Linked DNA regions of Homo sapiens: region 2 is linked to region 1. The links come from fine-mapping of genetic effects on gene expression. A gene starts in region 1. The other region holds a variant in brackets. All regions are shown on one strand. Distances are from middle to middle.

The links. PIP is the estimated chance that this variant, and not a neighbour inherited with it, causes the effect.
Region 2: its variant is fine-mapped to the expression of ZNF10 in thyroid (GTEx, PIP 0.95).

The regions. Positions count from the first base shown.
Region 1 is chr12:133,125,149-133,136,166 of GRCh38, reverse strand. ZNF10 (zinc finger protein 10) reads right to left here and starts at 5,540. Exons shown (of 5, transcript NM_015394.5): 1 at 5,413-5,540. It overlaps ZNF891 (zinc finger protein 891), which reads left to right and starts at 5,893. Exons shown (of 2, transcript NM_001277291.2): 1 at 5,893-5,940. It also overlaps the pseudogene RPL23AP67. RefSeq lists enhancers at 3,906-4,075, 5,158-5,437 and silencers at 5,488-5,727, 6,098-6,277.
Region 2 is chr12:133,150,518-133,161,535 of GRCh38, reverse strand. It overlaps ZNF10 (zinc finger protein 10), which reads right to left. Exons shown (of 5, transcript NM_015394.5): 3 at 10,382-10,508; 4 at 9,632-9,727; 5 at 2,071-6,033. The coding sequence ends at 4,568. Among named protein-coding and RNA genes, the nearest start is that of ZNF10, 25 kb to the right of the region's middle. RefSeq lists enhancers at 1,492-1,661, 5,128-6,327. The variant G/A (reference allele first, on the strand shown) is at 7,622.

The sequences.
Region 1 (11,018 bases):
GATGAAGGCATCAGGCTTCTAAAGGAAGAAGGATGCTTCATTCTCTCCTACCTCCTGGAAGTCAGGATAGGTGGGATGTTGACAATTAGCAGGCAGTTCAATAGAAATGTGAGTCAAAAAAGAAAGCAAGGCTATTTGCTAACAATGAGAGGAACAACAGATGGCCATGATCATTGAGGACAGTGATAAAGGTTTGGGCCATGCAGTGACAAACTAGCAAAAGCTGCTGACAAAAGATAAGCTGAGGTTACGGAGAGTATGTCTGTCATACTTGTCTGCCTAGCTGTGATTTCCTCAAGCAGCACTCGCTGCCTGAACAGAAGAAAAGGCAAACTGTGCAGTGTTCTGGGCTGGGATTTCTATGTGTGCAGGTAATGCAGAGCAAGAGAAGTAAGAATGCCTCATGTGAGAAATGTGTGCAATCAACAACAGGATCTAGTTTTGGTATAGACATGAGTCAAGGAAGGAGCTGACAGATTTGAGGAGAACCTCCAAGAAGAGTCGTGAGAATAAGGACATAAAAAGAGCCAGGAGAACAAGGGGTAAGAGTCAGAAAGAGGGATACCGAAGTTTGCAGAGGCTGTGCTGTTTGGGTCATGAGTGGAAGTCTGAGACACACAGGAGTGATGACATGAGCAGAGTGAAGTGAAGAGCCTCCAGAGATGAGAAGGCAAGGTAGGCTCAGCTCATATAACGAAGTCCTGGAACACTGCGATGCCACAGAGGAAAGCTGTTTCAAATCCTCTGCCTGATGATGTCCAGCATTATTTATTTCCTGTTTTGGCTGCAGCAGCATAATGGATCTTGGTATTCAGGGAGCATTGAGTGCCCTTTCCCCAGCTCACAGTGCAGAGTTTGGAGCCCAACTTACTATTTGGTCACTGCTGTGTAAGAACAAAAGATGAGAGGTAGTCTGGATGCTCTGAGATCCAATAATCTTCCCAGTAAGACAAGGCAGACCCATGAAAGGCAAAAGACAATTCTATATGCGCACACTAAGATCAAAAGGCATTTCAGGTAGCTATCAAGAGTGACTGAGCGTCCCCTACCTGAGAAGCTCTTTTTAAGATGTTAGGAACACAACTATGAGAATAATTTCCCTCCCTCAAGCAGATTGTAACCATGGAAGGATGTTAAAAGTCTAGTACCACAGACATGAAGAGAATGGAGAAAGGAAATGTGGCTGGGGAAATCTGCAAAACTTCCTGGGGAAGGAAAAACTGGAACAACGATGAGAAAAGGTCCAATGTTAGGAGTTAGAAAGCACAGCAACAGCCATTCCACAATGTGAGCTTTACATTTGCAAAGAGATTTTTCTTCCCACCTCCAAATGGTAAAATCTCCTAGAAGACTATATAATTCTATTTGTGAACATAAATGTTACAATAAAGTCTATATTTTCTACCAGAGTGGTCACAAAAAATATTTATAATCACTCCATTTTTCTTCTGAGGCAAAGTCAAAACATAGTGCCAGAGAAAGGGAGACTATTTTTATTTTGGTAAACTCTTAAGGACAGAGGGCTATATTAGTTTTCCATTGCTGCCAATTATCAAAACTTTGTGGTTTTCAACAACACACATTTGTTACATAACAATTCTGGAGGTCAGAAGTCTGATACAGGTTTCGGAGGGCTAAAATTAAGGTGTTGGCAGAGCTGTGTTCCTTCTGGAGGCTCTAGAGAAGAATCTATTTCCTTGCCCCCGTCCAGTGTCTAGGACCATCTACACTCCTTGGCTCCTGACCCTTCCTCCACCTGCAAGGCCAGCAATGATACATTTCTCTGTGCCTTTCTTTCATGGTTATATTTCCCTGATTGCTAACCTTCTTATCCCCCTTTTACTTTTTTTTTTTGAGAGGGAGTCTTGCTCTGTTGCCCAGGCTGGAGTGCAGTGAAGCAATCTCGGCTCATTGCAACCGCCGCCTCTTGGGTTCAAGTGATTCTCCTGCCACAGCCTCCCATATAGCTGGGATTACAGGCGCCCACCACCACACTCAGCTAATTTTTTTTTTTTTTTTTTTGTATTTTTAGTAGCGACAGGGTTTCACCAAGTTGGCCAGGCTGGTCTCGAACTCCTGACCTCAGGTGATCTCCCCACCTTGGCCTCCCAAAGTGCTGGGATTACAGGCGTGAGCCACCGTGCCCGGCCACCCAGCTCTTTTACTTTTAAGGACCCCTGTTATTACACTAAGCCCACTGAAATAATCCAGGATAATCTCTCCCCATCTTGAGATCCTTCATTGAATCACAACTGCAAATTTTATTTTGCAGTATAAGGTAAAATATTCCCAGGTGCTGGGGATATCTCTGGGGAGCCATTATTTTGGCTGCCACAAGGGCAGAGATGGGCTGAAAAGAAGCTCCAAGTATCGGCAAGAAGGCTATGAAAGTTACTATTTGAGGCACACGCAGTTCCAAAGCACAGCTCCAATCAAACACTTAGCGTACAAGTTTCACAACAACGTTCTGGACCCTTTTCAACTTAACTCCCACTACACTTGCCCCATATTCTCTAAGGATCACTTTAATGCCATCTATGCTGTGACGCCTTCCCACTATCTCAGAGAGGATCAGTGGTTCTATCATCCGTAAACATGAAGGACTCTGCCCATGCCCTATTCCAGCACTTCAACGCTGCCTTACGGTACCAAGATTTGTCTGTCTCCCTTATGAGATAGTGAACCACTTAAGAATTAGGACAATCTCATTCTAAATCCTGGGAAGAGGCTAGCAAAGTGCTTAGCACTTCATATTCATTCACTCTGACATGTGACTATACTTAACCAGCACTCACATTGACAGGTACAACCTCGTCAGGAACCGCATTTCACTTGGGGACATGGAGTACATGTTCATTAATAAAGAGAACAGGGTCTCTTCAAGTTCTGAATAGGTTTACCAGTATTTGCTTCAGCAAAGGGCAAGGTATGATCAGCAAAAAGGACCCAGCAGCCACAAAGTTAAAACTCGGTAACCAATAGACATGGCAAAGATATACTTAAAGATACAAAAGGCAAAGATCCTGCATCTGTCAAAACTCAGCAAATGTACACTTAAGATTTGCGCTTTTCATGTTATGTAAATTTTACATCTAAAGAAAAATCTAAACAAATATAGAATTCTAATTAATAATACATACGTATTCTGAAATTTTTAAGGAATACGTACCCATGTCAATTTACTTTGAAAAAAATTTAAAAATACAATGAACTGATGGATAAAAAGAGGGACAGATGGGTATGTGTTAAAATTAGGTACAGTAAAATATTAATGGTAGAGTCTAGATGGGAAGGTTTATAAGTATTCACTGTAAACTTCTTTTAATTTAGCTGTATGCTCAAAATTCTTCATAATAAAATTTTGAACAGGAAATGTTAGGATCAGTCAGCAAGGAGATATTGTGTGGAAAGAGGAAAAAATAATGCTCTTGGATGTTCATTACGAGTCAAAGAGGCACATACACAGACAAAGGTGGCCTATATCATATCTTGTCCCAACCTTGCTTCATAGCCAGAAGAATTAAAAGCCCTGGCTGACATGAGACATGCTAGAAAGAGTACTGCTGATGAAAGTAAAAGAGTCTCTTGTAGGCACAACAGAGATATTAACAATAAGAAATTTCTTTTTCCTTAAAATACTTTTTTTTTGAGACGGAGTTTCGCTCTTGTTGCTCTTGTTAATTTAAGATGTGTATCTCAAATCTCTGCCCTTGTGACTGGCATATGTTAATTAGCTGGGCATGGTGGCTGGCGCCTGTAATCCCAGCTACTAGGGAGGTTGAGGCAGGAGAATTGCTTGAACCCAGGAGGCAGAGGTTGCAGTGAGCCAAGATCGAGCCATTGCACTCCAGCATGGGCAACAAGAACAAAACTCTATCTCAAAAAAAAAAAAAAAAATTCTCAGATTTTCTTGACAATTGAATATAATCTATAAACAGAACTGTTTTTATTCTTACTCATCCTTTATTCTTCTAGTAAGAATTGCCTAGTAAGGTTTTGAAGTTTTTCTCATATAGTTCACATATATTTCTAGCTAAAATTATTTTCTTCCTATTGTGAAGACTTTTTAAAAATAAAAGTATGTGCTAACTTGTTGAGGACGGCAATCAATCTATTAGCTTATATATTTCCTTTTCAGTCACTTTACTACAAATTATTGATAGTAATTGAATCTCTTCTCATTTTGGGGACTTAATTAGTTAATTAATTAACAAGGATAATTTTGTAATCTCTTTTCCAGAAGGTAAGCCTCATATCTACTTAAATATTGTCCTAAGTAGAATTTCCAGACAGTGCTTATATAAAATACTGATAAGCAGAAATTCTCATTTAATTTATGATGTGTATCTCAAATCTCTGCCCTTGTGACTAGCATATACTAAGAGCTAAAGAAATGCATGCTGAGAGAAGTAATCAAAAAACAAATGTAACTTTCAAAAAGAGGCAGGAGCGTGTGCAACTTACCATCCAAGAGGCTTTGGAAGATGGGGGACAATTTTAGTAAAACAGAAGAGATTAGTTATGTCACAAGAGAAAAGTTAGTGTGGAGGTAATTTTCAAAAGGGTAGGGAGGATTTGTGCTATCCAGTTCTCGGAGACCTAACTGCAGTCATTTCTAACCTAATAACACTTGTTGGCTGGCATTCTGGGTGACATCCTGCCTTCCCTTTTACTTTTTTTTTTTTAATTAACAGTATCTTTCTGCAATTAATGTATAGCTGGAATTGAAATTGTTCACCTTCTGCATACACTTTGGGTGGGATCTACGTACGAAATCTTGATGTTAACCTTATCTTTGACACTCATATTATGTGTTAGATGGCGTATATATATCTAGTGTCAAGGGAAAATAAAAATATAGTAATTAAACTTATGATCTGTCTCTGAAAATAAAAAAAATAGATTAACCACACAAACACGCCTTCAGTTAATCTATCTGATTAAAAAACAAAACAAAGATGAGGAAGCTAAGAGCTAGAGATGCAGGATTTGTTTTTAAAAGACCACACACGAATCGGCGTCACTATTTCAACAAATACTAGAAAGGCCATATGCAAAATTTTAAACATCTATCCCAGCTGGGGGGAAAAATGGAAGTTAGACTAGAAGAAACCTTATTTTGTATTACTGAAAATATCTGGTTCAAACTTACCACCACCGCCGCCCACTCTGCGTCAATCTCCAGGTGCAGCCGTTATTCTCCACAGAACAAGAACGTCCGCCGTGAACGCCGGGGCCGCGCGAGGGACAGAAAGTGACTGAGGCAAGGGGTGACGATCACCGTTAAATTTTTTCATTGACGAAATTACCGTCTACCTAGAAATACGAAGCTAATACACTGCTACATTACTAAAGGGCTCAACACGCGCCTGATGACGATGCAAACACAAAATTCAGCACTTTCGTATATACCTGCAATAAGCAACTAGAAGGTTCGATGGGAGAAAGCGATCCCGTCACAAAGGCAGCAGCAACAGCAAAACAGAGAACGCGACTCCATTCACCAGCGGAGCGCGAAGAGCGGCGTCAGAGGTGAGTCTGAGGCCGGCTCGGCACGGCGGCGCCACCTCCCCGTGGCCTGACGTCACGCACGCGCACGCGCCCCGCCCCCATTGGTCCTACGCCCGCCCCTGCTGCGAACGCACGCACACGCACCCACAACACACACCGTTACGCACGCGCCCCAGCCTGGCGTTCAGGCCACGCTCCGCCCCCAGCCCGTCAGCCGCGCGCCCCGGGACCCTAGAGCCGGCGATTCGTCGCCGGCGCCGCAGCCGCCACTCTGTGCCGGACCCTGCGGGCCTTCGGCCCAGAGCGCGTCCGTGACGCACAGACCAGGCCCCTCTGCGGGGCGGCGCAGGAGCTCCTGGGAAACGTAGTTCGGCCTCGCGTCCCCCTCGGGCGGGACCGCGGACGCCTGGAGGCAGGCACTGAGGACGGGTGAGCATGCGGGCCTGTGGCTCGTTCACCCGGGACAAGTCCCTCGTGGGATCAGCCTGGCCCGCTGAGTTCTCCTGCGTGCAGGGATCGCCTCACGGGAGTCTGAGCAGCAGGGAGCCTGCCCGGGAGGCGGCGGTGGGAGAGGCCCTTGAGGGAGGAGGGGCTACTTACCGGGTGCGAGTGGAGCGCGGGGAGCGAGTGGGGACCAGGGGCGCGCGGGGCGGAGGGGTCCCGGGCTGGCTGCGGGTGCCACGCAGGGAGCGCTGGGGGGCCGGGGATGCGCGTTTGCCTCCTTCTCTAAGCAACACGGGAGGGCTAAAGGGTGCACGCCTCTGTCCAGCAGCCTCTCTTGAATCTCTAAACCTAGTAATGAGTTGAATCACAGCCATCGTTTTTTTCACCTATTGCCTTATACTGTGGTTGAATGCGATATGGTTTTATTTCTTTAATACTCTGGTGTATTCAATTGGCTGTTTCCCTTTGACTTCACCTATGCTCACAAGATTGTGTTTTAATCTTTTTGTGTACTATCCTTGCCCGTTATACTAACAAGATTTTACAAGCTTCATGAATAATTTGGACAGCACAGTCTCTCTTCTATTCTGTAAAACAGGTCACCACCCCTCACCGCCCCCCGCCCGCCTCCAAAAGTTTGGTGCTATTTGGTCTTAAAATATTTAGTACGCATTTAACTTCTGACTCAATTTTTTTTTTTTTTTTTTTTGAGACAGAGTTTCGCTCTTTGTTGCCCAGGCTGGAGTGCAATGGCGCCATCTTGGCTCACAGCAACCTCCGCCTCCCGGGTTCAAGTGATTCTTCTGCCTCAGTCTTGTGAGTTGCCGGGATTACAGACATGAGCCACCACGCCCAGCTAATTCTGTATTTTTAGTGGAGATGGGGTTTCTCCATGTTGGTCAGGCTGGTCTGGAACTCCCGACCTCAGGTGATCAGCCTGCCTCGGCCTCCCAAAGCGCTGAGATTACAAGCGTGAGCCACCGCACCCGGCCCTGACTCAATTTTTTAAAAAGTCTCATTGATTAGGTTTTTTAGTTCGTATTCTGTTTTAGATACCTTTCCTAGATAATTGTTTTTAATCTAATTTTTCAAATTTATTGGCATAAAATTGCCCATGCTATTTTATCACTGTAAGTAATTTCTATGGTGATTTTTAAAATCACCACTTTTTAATATTTTACTGCTGTAATTGTTATTTTTTTCTTTTTTGAACCTAATTATCTAGGCCTTTTTTTCTTGATTACTCCTATAAGGTATATGTGTACATAGTCTTTTCAAAAATGTAGATTTGGTTTTGGTTTTTTTGTTGTTTTGTTTTGGTCTTTTTTGGGGAGGGGGGTCCTATTACAGTAAGTTTTGCTCTTAATTTTTAAATTTTTCTTTTACTTTGTCTCTGTTTTTCTACTTTTTTTTTTTTTTCGAGACAGAGTTTCACTCTGTCTCCAGGCTGGAGTGCAGTGGCGTGATCTCGGCTCACTGTAGCCTCTACCACCCGGATTCAAGCGATTCTCCTGCCTCAGGCCCCACCACGCCCGGCTAATCCAGCTAATTTTTGTTTTTGTTTGTTTGTTTGTTTTTGAGACAGAGTCTCTCTCTCTCGCCCAGGCGGGAATGCAATGGCAGGATCTCTGCTCACTGCAACTTCCACATCCCGGGTTCAAGCCATTCTCCTGCCTCAGCCTCTGGAATAGCTGGGATCACAGGCGCACACTGCCATGCCCGGTTAATTTTTTGTATTTTTTAGTAGAGACGGGGTTTCACGGTGTTGCCCAGGCTGGTCTCGAACTCTTCAGCTCAGGCAATCCGCCCGCCTTGGCCTCCCAAAGTGCTAGGATTACAGGCGTGAGCCACCGTGCCTGGCCATCTGCTTCTTGATTTGACTGGGTAATTAATTTACTACTCTTTATTTGTGCTCCAAGAAATGTGTGTGTACATTTTTAAGAGCTGAATATGTTAAAAGACTCATAATAAAAACAGGAAACACCTTAACCCCATCTCTTCCCAGTGGCAACCACTTGGAAATATTTAAGCAGTTCTGGCTTCGAACTCCTCTCAGTATTTTTTTATTCACCGATTTGTGACATTATTTTAAAATTTTTATCATGTTAAATAAGAACTTTGGCTGCCTTCTTTCTACATCCTTAAATCACAATGTAATTATTTTACAAATATTATAATGTAGTTCTCCCACAAATTTTGGATAAATATGTTCAGTGTTTTCATTTGATGACTACTCTTTAGTACTGAGCCATAATATGTTTCTTTCTTGTGCAAGGTTTACCTTTCTTGTTTTTAATGACTGCCTTTTTTATTCATTTGCTTAGTTTTTCTTAAATCTATGTAAAATGTCTTTTGGTTCCATTTTCCTCAAGGGCTAATCTGTCATACAGTCTTATCACTTTTCTCCTTTCCTGGACATCCCCCTGCAATGTAGATTGATCAGTTACTCTGTAGGCATGCAGCACGCTGGCATACCACTGGGCTTCCCTTTTGCCCTCATCAATTTCCTCATCTCACCTCTGTGTTAAATCTCCTGTTTCCTGTAAAGCACTTCTATTCCTGTTTGGTGGATTGTAATCTTAACTGCCTTGAAGAAAGGGTCCATATGATCTACATATATTAAAGTTGTAGAAATGATTAGAAATTACTTTTTCCTCACATTTGTGTGGTGTTTTCACCGAGTATACACATCTCAATAGGAAATTACTTTCCATTAGAATTTTGAAAGCCAGTGAAGCTAGATAGGAAATGGAGCAGTGTTACTGTTACTGTTGAGAAGTCCTATTTCATACCTTGTTCTTTTATGTGTAATCTGTTTATCATCTCTTGGAGCTCTTTGGTATTCAAAAATTTCATGATGATGTGTGTTCTAATTATTTAAAGAAATTACTTGCTTTGATGGATCAGTTCTTAGATACTGTGTTTTTTTAAGGAATAAGAAGTTTCTGGCCGGGCACCGTGGCTCACGCCTGTAATCCCAACATTTTGGGAGGCCGAGGTGGGTGGATCATGAGGTCAGGAGTTCAAGACCAGGCTGGCCAAGATGGTGAAACCCCATCTCTACTACTAAAAATAAGAAAATTAGCCGGGCGTGGTGGCCGGCGCCTGTAATCCCAGCTACTTCGGAGGCTGAGGCAGAGAATTGCTTAAACCCGGGAGGCAGAGGTTTCAGTGAGCCGAGATTGTGCCACTGCACTCCAGCTTGGGCGACTCCGTCTCAAAAAAAAAAAAAAAAAAAAAAAGTTTTCCTGTACTTGTTTGTTTCTTCCTCTTGTTTTTTCTTTCTGGAACTCTGAGTAATCTGGGGTACCTTAAATTGCTCATATAGTGGTCTTTTTTTATTTATTCTTACTTTTTCTTTTAGATCAGCTTTACTTATTTATTCATTTATTTATTGAAACAGAGTCTCACTGTGTTGCCCAGGCTGGAGTGCAGTGGCACATCTCGGCTCACTGCAGCCTCCACCTCTTGGGTTCAAGCATTTCTCCTGCTTCAGCCTCCCGAGTAGCTGGGATTACAGGTGTGCACCAACACATCTAGCTTTTTTTTTTTTTTGTATTTTTATTTGAGACGGGGTTTCACTGTGTTGGCCAGGCTGGTCTTAGAATTCTGACCTGAAGTGATTCGCCTACCTCGGCTCCCAAAGTGCTGGATTACAGGCGTAAGCCACTGTGTTCAGCCAAGATCAGCTTTCTAGAAAAGTTCCTTAAGTTTATCTTTTTTTTTTTTTTTTTTTTTGAGACGGAGTCTCGCTTTGTTGCCCAGGCTGGAGTGCAGTGGTACGACCTCGGCTCACTGCAAGCTCCACCTTCCAGGTTCATGCCATTCTCCTGCCTCACACTCCCGTGTAGCTGGGACTACAGGCACCCACCACCACGCCCGGCTAATTTTTTATATTTTTAGTAGAGATGGGGTTTCACAGTAGCCAGGATGGTCTCGATCTCCTGACCTCATGATCCACCCGCCTCAGTACTGGGATTTCAGGCATGAGCCTCCGTGCCCGGCCCTAAGTTTATCTTTTAACCCTTGTACCTTTTTGGGGAGTTTTTAAATTATAATTTTTAACTTCCTGGGAAATTAAAAAAAATCCATAGAGTTGTATTCTTATTTCATAGAGGAAATATCTCTCTGATTATTTTTCAAATTATGAAGTTTTCAAACACATACACAAATATAGTAGTACAGTGTACCAATCATCCTATTTTATTTTTTCCTGATGAGAAGATGTACATATTTAGAATTAGCCAGCTGGACTCAGTTTAGATTATTCAGTTTTGTTGGCAACATCCAGAGCATGGGAACCAGGAGCCAGTCAAACATATGCCTTCTTCTCTCCATCAGGCCTGATCAAGGTGTTGACCTTGGCCACATCAGTGTCATAGAGCTTCTTCACAAGCCTGTGAGGAGGGCATGTTGACCTGGTGCTTGTTGGCTTTAAGATCCACAGTGAGCACAAGTGTGTTACCTTCTATCCTCTTCATGGCAGACTCAGTAGGAATTTGATGATAGCATGGTGGTCAATCTTGTTTCTCCTGAGGGTGCTCTTCTGAAGATACGTGGGCTGCCTCCAGAGCCTCAGTGTCTTGGGCTGCTAGAAGATGGGTGACATGCGGATCTTCTTTTTTTTTGTTGCTGTGAATACCTTTCACCACTGCCTTTTTGACCTTCAAAGCCTTTGCTTTGGCTTTAGCCATAGGAGAGACAGGAGTTTCCTTCTTCGCCATCAGTGCCATCTTGTGAAAAAGGCCCCATTGTTCTATTTTGAAGCAAATCTTGGACATTATATATTATTTGCAAATATTTCAGAATGCATCTCTGAATGATAAGTACTCCTTTTTAAGTAGGATAGTCTCACACCTGCAAAATTTGTAATTCCTTTATATCAAATTTATAGGCAAAAGCCAAGGGATGGGGTGGGGAGGGTATGCCTGTAGTCCCAGCCATTCAGGAGGCCAGAGGCTAAGGTGGAGGATCACTTAAGCCAGGATTTCAAGGTTAGCCTGGCCAATATAGTGACACCCTGTCTCTAAAAAATAAGTAACTAATGTATAGGCAGTGTTCAG
Region 2 (11,018 bases), 25 kb before region 1:
ATACTGAATTTTTCATTTCAGTTATACTTTTCATCTCCAGAATTTCTCTTCAGTTCTTTTTAATAATTTCTATCTGTTTATCGATATCACCATTTTGTCTAATAAGTTCAATGTCTAGGCAGTGAGGACTGATTCAGGAACACTCATGTGAAAAGCTTCTATTTCCCAAACATATTATCACAGCATTCTCCAGCACTTTTTAACTGAAAAACCCTTCAGATCAGTATATGACAAAATTCATTAGAATTTTAAAAAATTGGCCGGGTGCAGTGGCTCACGCCTGTAATCCCAGCACTTTGGGAGGCCGAGGTGGGCAGATCATGAGGTCAGGAGATCAAGACCATCCTTGGCTAACAGGGTGAAACCCCGTCTCTACTAAAAATACAAAAAAATTAGCCAGGCGTGGTGGTGGGCGCCTGTGGTCCCAGCTACTCGGGAGGCTGAGGCAGGAGAATGGCATGAACCCGGAAGGCAGAGCTTGCAGTGAGCCAGATCGCACCACTGCACTCCAGCCTGAGTTACAGAGCGAGACTCCGTCTCAAAAAATAAATAAATAAATAAAATAAAGATTAATTTCGGGAGGACTGCCATCTTAACAATACTGAGTTTTCCCATCCTTGACCAAGGTATATTTCTCCGTTTCTTTTGTGTTATTTATTCTTATTATATGTTCCTTAACTTCTTCCAGCAATGTTTTATAGTTTTCACTGTGCAGGTCTTTCATGTTTCATTAAATTTATCTAAGTATTTCACATTTTTTCTATCATTGTAAATGGGATTATATTTCTAATTTCATTTCCTAATTGGTCACTGTTAGTCCAAGCTGCAACATTTTATAAACCCCCAACCATTTCACAGACCCTGGTCAAGGCGATTCTTCAGGGGCTTGGGCCATGAGAAACATCCTACCTAACCACCTGACAACAGGAACATCTTTATCAAATGCTGCCAGGCAGCAAGCCATACCACCCAGACCCCTTCCACCCAGACCTATAATTACCCCAGCCTGAAAGCAGCAGTGGGCTCCGGCACTAAGCTGGTCCCCTCTCTGCAGGTTTTTGCTGGCAATAAACCTGTGTTTCTGTTGAGCCACTCTCTCTTTAACCCTCACCTTTCCTTCAAAACCTAACTTTTTTTGTATCATTATAAATGGAACTGTATTTCCAATTTCATTTCCTAATTGGTCACTGCTAGCATATAGAAATAAAATTGATTTTTGTAACCTCATATCCTATGACCGTGCTAAATTCCTTTATTAAGGTTCTAGTAGCTTTTCTTTTTAACGGAAAACGAAGAGTCTCACTCTGTCACCCAGGCTAGAGTGCAGTGGTGCGATCCTGGCTCACTGCAATCTCCGCCTCCCGGGTTCAAGAGATTCTCCTGCCTCAGCCTCCCGAGTAGCTGGGATTACAGATGTGCGTCACCACACCCAGCTAATTTTTGTATTTTTAGTAGAGACAGGGTTTCACCATGTTGGCCAGGCTGGTCTTGAACTCCCAACCTCAGGTGATCCACCCGCCTCAGCCTCCCAAAGTGCTGGGATTACAGGCGTAAGCCACCGTGCTGGGCCTCTAGTAGCTTATTAATATGTATGAGCCCTCACACCCCTTTTTTGGAGACAGGGTCTCACCCTGTTGCCCAGGCTGGAGTGCAGTGCTGTGATAATTCACTGCAACCTCAAACTCTGGTCTCAAGTGGTCCTCCTGCCTCAGGGCCTTTTAAGTAGCTAGGACTATAGGTATGCACCACCACACCTAATTTTTAAACTTTCTGTAGAGACAGGGTCTCGCAATGTTGCCCAGGCTGGTCTTGAACTCAGTCAATCCTCCTCCCTCAGCCTCCCAAGTTGTTGGGATTATAAGCATGAGCTAACACACTGGGCCTTGGTATGAGCTTCTGAAGAAAAAAAAAATTCCATCACTGAGGAGATTGTTTTCCTAATTCTACAAGTAAGATATATTATTTCAGGAGGCTTTGGAAAGAACTGAAAAGTGTAAAAATAGAAAAGGAAACACCAATTTTCCCAATATATAGGCTAACTACTGTTAATATTTTGACAAATCTCCTTAGTTTTGGGCAACACTCATTTTTTACATTTATTTTGACATATTTGAGCTTATTCCATATTAACAATTATTTATCATGCTTTTGTAACACATGACAGCATTTTTCCTTTACCAAACTTTTTGTGTACATATTTTAATGCCTGCATAATCTTCCATTACACGGATATGCCACAAATATTATGCTAGTGTACATTTTTTATTTTGCAAATTATGCACTGTCATAAATATTTCAGTGATCATCCTCATACATATTTCTGTCTTCATTACAAGTTAGACCCTTAAGGTGTTAACAATAGTAATATTATTAATGGCACCTACTATGTGCCAGGCACTCTTTTATGTGATTCATACATATCATCTCAATCCACATGACAACGCTTTGAGGTAGATACTAGTAGTAACCTCATTATACAGTTGAGGAAATTGAGCCACAGGTTATTAGCAATGTTAAGAGCCCCAGTTAAGTGACTATTCTACTCCCTTAATGAAAACCATTTCTGATAGGTATGTTGTATGTGGGCATGGTGTGTACACAGTGAGAAGAGCAGCAGGAAACATGAAACCCAGGACCTAGTTCTGAGTCTGACTTCACTGAAAATGTGAGACCGGGGCCAATTCACTTGATCTCAATTGTACAACGACAAGTATGAGCTAGAGGCTGCCATGTTCCTCGTAGTTCTCAAGTCTCCTGATTCTAACCATCATTTCTAGGTTTTTTCCTCAGAGAGAGATCAAGATCTCTGGTTGGCTTCAGCAATACTTCATCTATCATTCAACAATCAATCATTGAGCAGCTAATATTTATGCCAGAAAATGGAGAATCATGGTCAGTCCCTATATACAACAGACTGATTTATAGAATGAAAGAGAAAATTAAAATAGATCCTCTTCCTGAATCTTTTGTGGGTTATTAACTTACCAGAGAATCTGAAGACTGGGATCCTCTCCATAGAATGGAAAACCTTTGTACAAACAGAATAAATGTGTATACAACATTACAAGCTGTTTATTGATCCTCAGAAATGAAACCTATATCCACTATTTGTCAGTGATTTTCCCAGGCTGTTGAGTTCTGATTTAGGCAAAAGGGAAAAACCATGTATGACTGTAAGGGAAGTGAGAACTCAGTAAATTCTTATAAGCACACAAGCAGATTTCAATTAAATAACAGATATTAGGGTGCGGCAATATTATTAATAATCACAGCCAGTAACTACAGAGAACATAATATATGTCAGGCACTATTCTAAGCTGTTTCCATTTACTCATTTAATACTCACCATAATCCTACCAGGTAAGTACTATTATTATCGCTAATTTACAGATGAGGATATCAGTAAGTTTGGCACAGAGAAGCTAAGCAGCATGTTCAAGATCACCCAGCTAGTGGGGTTTCAACCTGGGTAGTCTAGCTCAAGTCTACGCTCTTAAACACTAATCTTTCTTTATAAAGATAAAAGACTACCTTGAGAAAGAGGGTATCTTTGGACTGTGCTCTGTTTATCACATGAGGACACTTGCTCTAAATATTGTTTAAATACTTGTTCCCACTAAAATGGGGACCCTCCCTGATATGTTCAAATGCCCAATGTTCCCCTAGGTCCTAACATCCAGAGAATTACTGTGTTTTTAAATTCTCAGGAGCTTTTGCAGTGCTAATAAGAGTGGAAAAAGTGGAACTCTGTGACCCAAAACAATTTAGAATAGGAAAGCTCATTAACAGGTGGTACTCAAAAGCTTCTTTGATGGTAGAATAGAGAAACTAGATATCCTCTTACAATATTTAAAAGTTTCTTAAAATAATTATTACAGCAACATTAAACAGACTATAAAACTCAGTCAAAATCTCCTTATCTAACAAATCAATTCTGTTCAATTATCTGTATACTTTCAATTCTTGCCCACATGCAAATGTACTTAAAAATGGGTTAGCACTGGTAGTGGAGATGTGTTGTTTTTAATTGTACTACATTATAAGCATTTTTCTTGCTGTTAACCAAAATATGGTTTCTACCAGACACATAAAACATACCAAACACTACTAAATGTCCCAGAAGAGAGACATAGTCAAGAAAACAATGACATATTGACTGAAATATTATTTTCCATCTTTTGTTGCATTAACTGTATCATTTCTTAATTCTCAGCAACAACTCTCCCTATAGTAGCATACTCATTTCTTTTCAAATGAAGGGGTTCTCGCTCAACAACTCACCTATTTAATAATTCCTTCTCAGATTCTAGCATTTAAGACTTGGTCAAGAATGCTCTCAGGCCAATTACTTCTGTAGGAATTCATGAAAAGAAGAAAATCTGATGGATTTGTGTACTGAAATAAAATCTGTGGTTTCTTTCCCTTCCAGGACCAATTCTCTAATGTGCAATAGGATAGTAACAAGACTGAAAGCATTTCCACATAGATTCAATTTGTACAGCTTATCTCCAGGAGTTCTCCAATGCAAAATAAAGTCATTGCTCTTTGTGAAAAATTCCCATATTTATTAGTAAGCATTTTCTCTAATATGATTTGTCTGGTATCCAATAAGGTTAGAGGTATTAACAAGCGCTGTCCCACATTGATTGCATGTTAAGAACTGCTCTCCAGTGTGAGCTATTTGATGAACTATAAATGGAGAGTTCTGGCTGAAGATAATGCCACATTGATTACATTTATAGGTCTCTTCTCCAACATGAATTCTCTGGTGCTTAATGAGGTCATTCTTCCGGATGAAGGCTTTCCCACACTGACAGCATTCATATGGTTTCTCTCCAGTGTGTATCCTCTGATGCACAATAAGGGCAGAACTCTGGCTGAAAGATTTTCCACAATCATGACACTCATATGGTTTCTCTCCAGTGTGGGTTCTTTGATGTGAATAAAGGTGAGAGCTTCGACTAAAACATTTTCCACAATCCTTACACTCAAAAGGTTTTAGTCCAGTGTGAATTCTATGATGCACAACAAGGTGAGATCTCTGGCTGTAAGACTTTCCACATTCATTGCATTCATAGGGCCTCACTCTCACATGGGTTCTCTGATGCAGAATGAGATGTGTGCTCTGTCTGAAAGATTTCCCACATTCAGGACATTCATAGGGTTTCTCTCCAGTATGTGTCCTCTGGTGTCTAATAAGCCTAGAGCTATGAACAAAAGATTTCCCACACTGATTACATGTGTACAGTTTGTCTCCTGTATGAGTTCTCTGATGAGTAACAAGGTGAGAGAACCAGCTGAAGGATTTTCCACATTCTTTACATTCATAGGGTTCCTCACCAGTATGGGTCTTTTGATGTCCAATGAGGTGAGAACTCCGGCTGAAAGACTTTCCACATTCTTTACACTCATAGGGTTTTTCTCCAGTATGAATAAGCTGATGCCTAGTAAGATTAGAGCGCCAGCTGAAGAATTTTCCACATTCCTTACATTCATAGGGTTTCTCTCTATGTATGCCCTTTGATATACCAAGAGATGAACCATGAGTAAGAGAGTTGTCATTATCAGGGCATTTGTAGGATTTATCACCTGTGTGAGTTCTTGCAAACTGAATAAGGTGAATGTTTTGACAGAAAGTTTGACCACATTCATTACTGTTACTTGCACAACTGTCCTGATGACCATTAAGAACTAAATCATGTTTTAAACTTTTAGTATGTGAGTCACGTTTATGGAAATACTCTCTCAGTACTAGCTGAGCAGGAAGAAGACAGTTTCCCCCATATTTACCACTTTCAGAGACTCTCTCCTGAGTAAGTACTTTCTTTTGGGTGAATGCCACTTGCCTCAAATGTCTCTCTGGGTTTTCCTGATACTTGTCTAACTGGTCTCTACATTTCCAGACTTCTTCTAATGACAAATACCAGAGATCATTCCTTGCCATTCCTTCCATTTTAATGTCACAGGATTGCTTATCTTTAAAAATGCTCCTGCTGGAAACTGATGATTTGATTTCAAATGCAGTCTCTGAATCTGAAAGAAATGAAAAATGTTTGTGTAACTAAACAGAGTATTAAGGTGAGAATGCTAGGATGTATGTGGAGACAAAGTATGCAAGATGTACACAGTTGCTTTCAAATATGGCTTTATAACTTTGATAGAGAATGAGAAAAGGAAGAATGGAGCGGTAAACAATAAATGCATTGTGGTATACAGTACTCACAAAGGGCAAAAGGAGTAAGGAGAAGCCACAGGACACAGCATGACACATGGGATCAGGGTATCAATGGTGAGGGTAGAAATAAGGGAAATTCCATAAAAAGGACTGCACTCTCATTTTCTAATCCAGATATTAACAGTCTAAGTTCCTCACCTGTCTACTTGTTGTCAGGACTTTCCCCTGACACACATTCTTCACATTACTATCAATTTAGTATTCTCTCTCTTTTTTTTTTTTTTGAGACAGTTTCGCTCTTGTTGTCCAGGCTGGAGTGCAATGACACAATCTTGGCTCAATGCAACCTCCGCCTCCCAGGTTCAAATGATTCTCCTGCCTCAGCCTCCCAAGTAGCTGGGATTACAGGCACCTGCCACCATGCCTGGTTAATTTTTAATATTTTTAGCAGAGACAGGGTTTCACTATGTTGGCCAGGCTGGTCTTGAACTCCTGACTTCAGGTGATCCACCCGCCTTAGCCTCCCAAAGTGCTGGGATTATAGGCGTGAGCCAGTGCGTCCGGCCCAATTTAGTATTCTTAAACCATGAATGCAGCCATACGTCAGGCAATGCTTTCTATCCAAATCACAGAAGCACTATAGAATAACACCCAGATGAGTGACACAACAGACCTCTCAGAGCAGCTACATGACAAGGTGGAAGAGTAACTGCACAAAAGTTACCAAGATGCAAGTTCTAAGTTTTATATTACGACTAGTGGTGAATTTAGACGAGTTGCTAAACTTTGAAGAATTCATTTTGCTTATCTGTAATCTAAGGATGACAGTATTTGTTATTTAAGATTATTATATTATATAAAGCATGAGCCTATTACAGTCTCTGGCACATTTATGGTCAAAGCAATAAGATTTACAATAATCATCATCATTCTTCTCATTTTTTTGATTTCTTCGCTCTGAAACATAAGGACTTAACAACTGATAGGACTACTACCACAAGATGTGAACTTAGAATCTGAAGCCTGACCCATACGCTCTTAGAATTTCTGCCATCTGCTACCTGTGTATATTACTGCAAATTATTTCTCTTGAATAAGAGCTTTATCTGTTTCTCAATGTCTTTCAGGTAAAACATATAATCCCAAACCTAAAAAATACACTGATGATACCACTTCATCTTACATAAGTGGGGTGACATTCCACTCTTACCTGGTATTATGGGTTAAACTGTATCCCCCCCGCCGACAAAAAGGTATGTTGAAGTTTTAATCCTCAGTATCTCAGAATATGACCATATTTGGAAATACAGTCTTTCCAGATGTAATTAGTTATGATGAGGTAGTACCAGAAATAGGATGGGCCCCTAATCCAGTATGAGGGTGGTCCTCCATAAAAAAGACACAGACACAGGGGAAGAGACCATGTGAACATGGAGACCAAGACTG[G/A]AATGATATATCCACAAGCCAAGGAACACCTGGGGCCAGCAGAGCCTGGAAGAGATAAGGAAAGACCCTCTCCTAGAAGCGTAGCAGAGCCCCACTGACATCTTCATTTTAGACTTAACAGCCTCCAGCTGTGACATGATACATTTTGGTTGTTTTGAGCCACCTAACTGCTGGTTCTTTGTTACCGCAGCCCCAGGAAACTAATACACCTGGTAAATGATCCCTGTGCCAGGCCTGGTCCCTAAATGACTTCCTTATACAATCCCACCCCGACCAGTCCTGTCCCTTACCACTTAGTTAGTTCCTAGTTTCTTCCCCATCCTGATGATTTTTAATAGGAAATACACCACCCTTTCCTCCCTTTCCCCAACCCAGAACATCAGAAAATCTTATGGAGAAGTTTTTCAACCTACAAATGCCAACTGGAAGATTCTATGAAGAATATCTATGATAAGGGGGGTGCTGAGCACTTATGGAGGACAATTCTGAGTGGAGAGTTTGGTCATAAGAATGAGGTGTTTTATTAATATCCTAAAATCTTCCACATATTATGTAATACAACCATGCCAGTAAGTTATTGTCGAAGTCTGTTGGACCCATCAATCAACTAATCATCTGATTTTTAAAAATCATCATTCATTATATTTTTTGATTTGATAATGAATTTAACAGCCTTGTAGATTCTGTAAAACTCCATGCCTTTAAGCCCATGAAGTCTGAGTATTTCTTTTGACAATAAATTCTCAATAAAAATATAAACTGCTGGGTCCAGTTAATAATTGTTATTTTTGGATACTTGTCAACAGACATTCAGGAAAGCTTACTAGATGAACAAAATAGAAAAGAAAGAAAGAAGGTAAGTAATAAAAAGAAAATATAACAATATTTCCTCCCATGGTCCCAAAGAAAGACTTGCTTTGAGATACCATTTTGATACAATCACCTACAAGGCAAATACTAAAAAGTAAAAAAGAGCTTATGATAATATTTCAAAGTAGAGATTTAAACTAAGTGGAAGTTCAGAAGAGGAAGAGGCCAATACTTAATGAGGAATCATAAAAGCCTTCATGGGAAAGAACTTGAGGCTAAATTACAGGACAAGTAAGACTCAGATTTAATTTACATCACACTCAAAGTCTGAGATGCAGGGAAATGCCTATAAATAAATTTTTAAAACATTAAATACAAAACTAGATAGAGGCTGGGCATGGTGGCTCACGCCTGTAATCCCAGCACTTTGGAAGGCCGAGGTGGGCGGATCACTTGAGGTCAGGAGTTCGAGACCAGCCTAGCCAACATGGTAAAACCCTATCTCTCCTAAAAATACAAAAATTAGCTGGGCGTGGTGGTGCATGCCTGTAATTCCTGGTTCTTTGGGAGGCTAAGGCGGAAGAATCGCTTAAACCTGGGAGGCGGAGGTTGCAGTGAGCCTAGATCGCGCCACTACACTCCAGCCTGGGAGACTGAGTGAAACTCCATCTCGAAAAGAAAAAAAGATCTAAAGTACAGTAGGAAAAACTGGTGTTTCTGTGAGCAGCCATTCTGGAAAGGAAGGAGAGTTGAGGCAACAGGAATTATGAGCTCTCTGCAGCAGTTTTCTACCTGGCAGAAAACAAACTCTCAGAAAAGAAGGTGATAAGAGTCCCACTCCAGAGCTTGCACAGAGAACTGAGTTGTGGGAAGGGGTCACATGAAAGAACAAAGAGAGGCAAAAATGCAAGAAGTGATTCTATGACAAACGAAAGCACAAGATGCTAGAGTGAGTGGTAACAATTAGGAGAGCGACACGTGCAAGCGCTGAAACCAAGCACGTCAACAGACAGAGAAACCTTTGCCTCTGAATGCAAATGGAATGTAAAGACTGGCAGTGGGGAAACAGGGGCCAGATAAACTCAGTCTTCCCAGGAAGAAGGGCCTGTGAGGAGGGCCAGTGACCACTATCTCTAGAAGTTCTGGCACCTCACAGCCCATCTGGGCTGCTGCCTATGACAACTCTTGACTGGTCCTCACCAGGATGGGTCTCTTGGTGAATTTCTCTCTCCACCAGCCAGGGCTCTTCTCCCTTCTCCAACCGGAGGATCACATCTGGCTTAGTAAGCTGATAACCTGTTCACAGTGAAAGACAAAGAACAGGGTAAGAGTCAGGGGAGCTCTGAGGTAGGCACGAAGAAACATCTCAGATTCAACCTGACCACCAACCCTCTGCAGGACTGGCAGGGACTCTAAAGTTGACAGAGGCAGGAAAACTTATTTTATTTTATTTATTTATTTTGAGATGGAGTCTCTCTCTGTTGCCAGGCTGGAGTGCAGTGGCATAATCTTGGCTCACTGCAACCTCCACTTCCGGGGTTCAAGTGATTCTCCTGCCTCAGCCTCCCAAGTAGCTGGGACTATAGGAGCACGCCACCACGCCCAGCTAATTTTTGTATTTTTAGTAGAGACGGGGTTTCACCATGTTGGTCAGGATGGTCTCAATCTCTTGACCTTGTGATCTGCTCACCTCGGCCTCCCAAAGTGCTGGAATTACAGGCGTGAGCCACCATGCCCAGCCAGAAAACTCCTTAAAGAGGCATTTTTAAAACTTCAATACATTAAAACAAGTTTTCCACAAAAGCTGGAGTAAAAAAACCCTGTTCTATGCCTCAAAGAAATTAGGTCTCTGAACGCCAAGCCTATACTCTGGTGTGATACATGCTTCAGGGTCTCTGTACCTTTTGATCAATGGAGAACCAAAATCTTCAAAAACAGAGCTAGTCTTACCCAAGGAAACCAGGTTCTTATAGTTCTCCAGCATCACATTTCTGTACACGATCTGCTGAGCAGTGTCCAGCAGCTTCCACTCCTCCCTGGTGAAGTCCACAAATACATCCTTGAAGGTCACCAGTGTCTACAACATCAAACACATTTGCATTGCACCAGATATGCATCTTTGCTATCCCCCTTTCCTGATCGCTAACAGGAAGAGAAATTAAGCTGACAGCACTGGGGCAGGTAAAGTGGATGGACCACAATTTATTCTAGGAGTGAGTAGTATTTATTCTAGTCAAGTCTTAAAAGGAATGGCTATTAGGTACCTACTGTCTGAAAACAAGTTTTATGTGATGCTTTAGGTTAAAGAAAACTGTCATAAGCATTTTTATTTAAATTAAATTTTAAACAGCTATGGCAGGGGGAATCATCCATTCTCCAAAAAAGTTAACCCACTTTTATACTACGTAAATAAAGAACCTAATTCAAGTACACCTTAATGCTTAAGAGATTTACCACCCTAGCCATGTTTTATAACCTAAAATAATTATCCAAAACATTTTTCATGACTATTGGTAGGTACTAAAAAAAAAAAAAACAGAAGAGTTGGGAGATTATATTTTAGCAGTAGCAAAACAATTTGACAAAG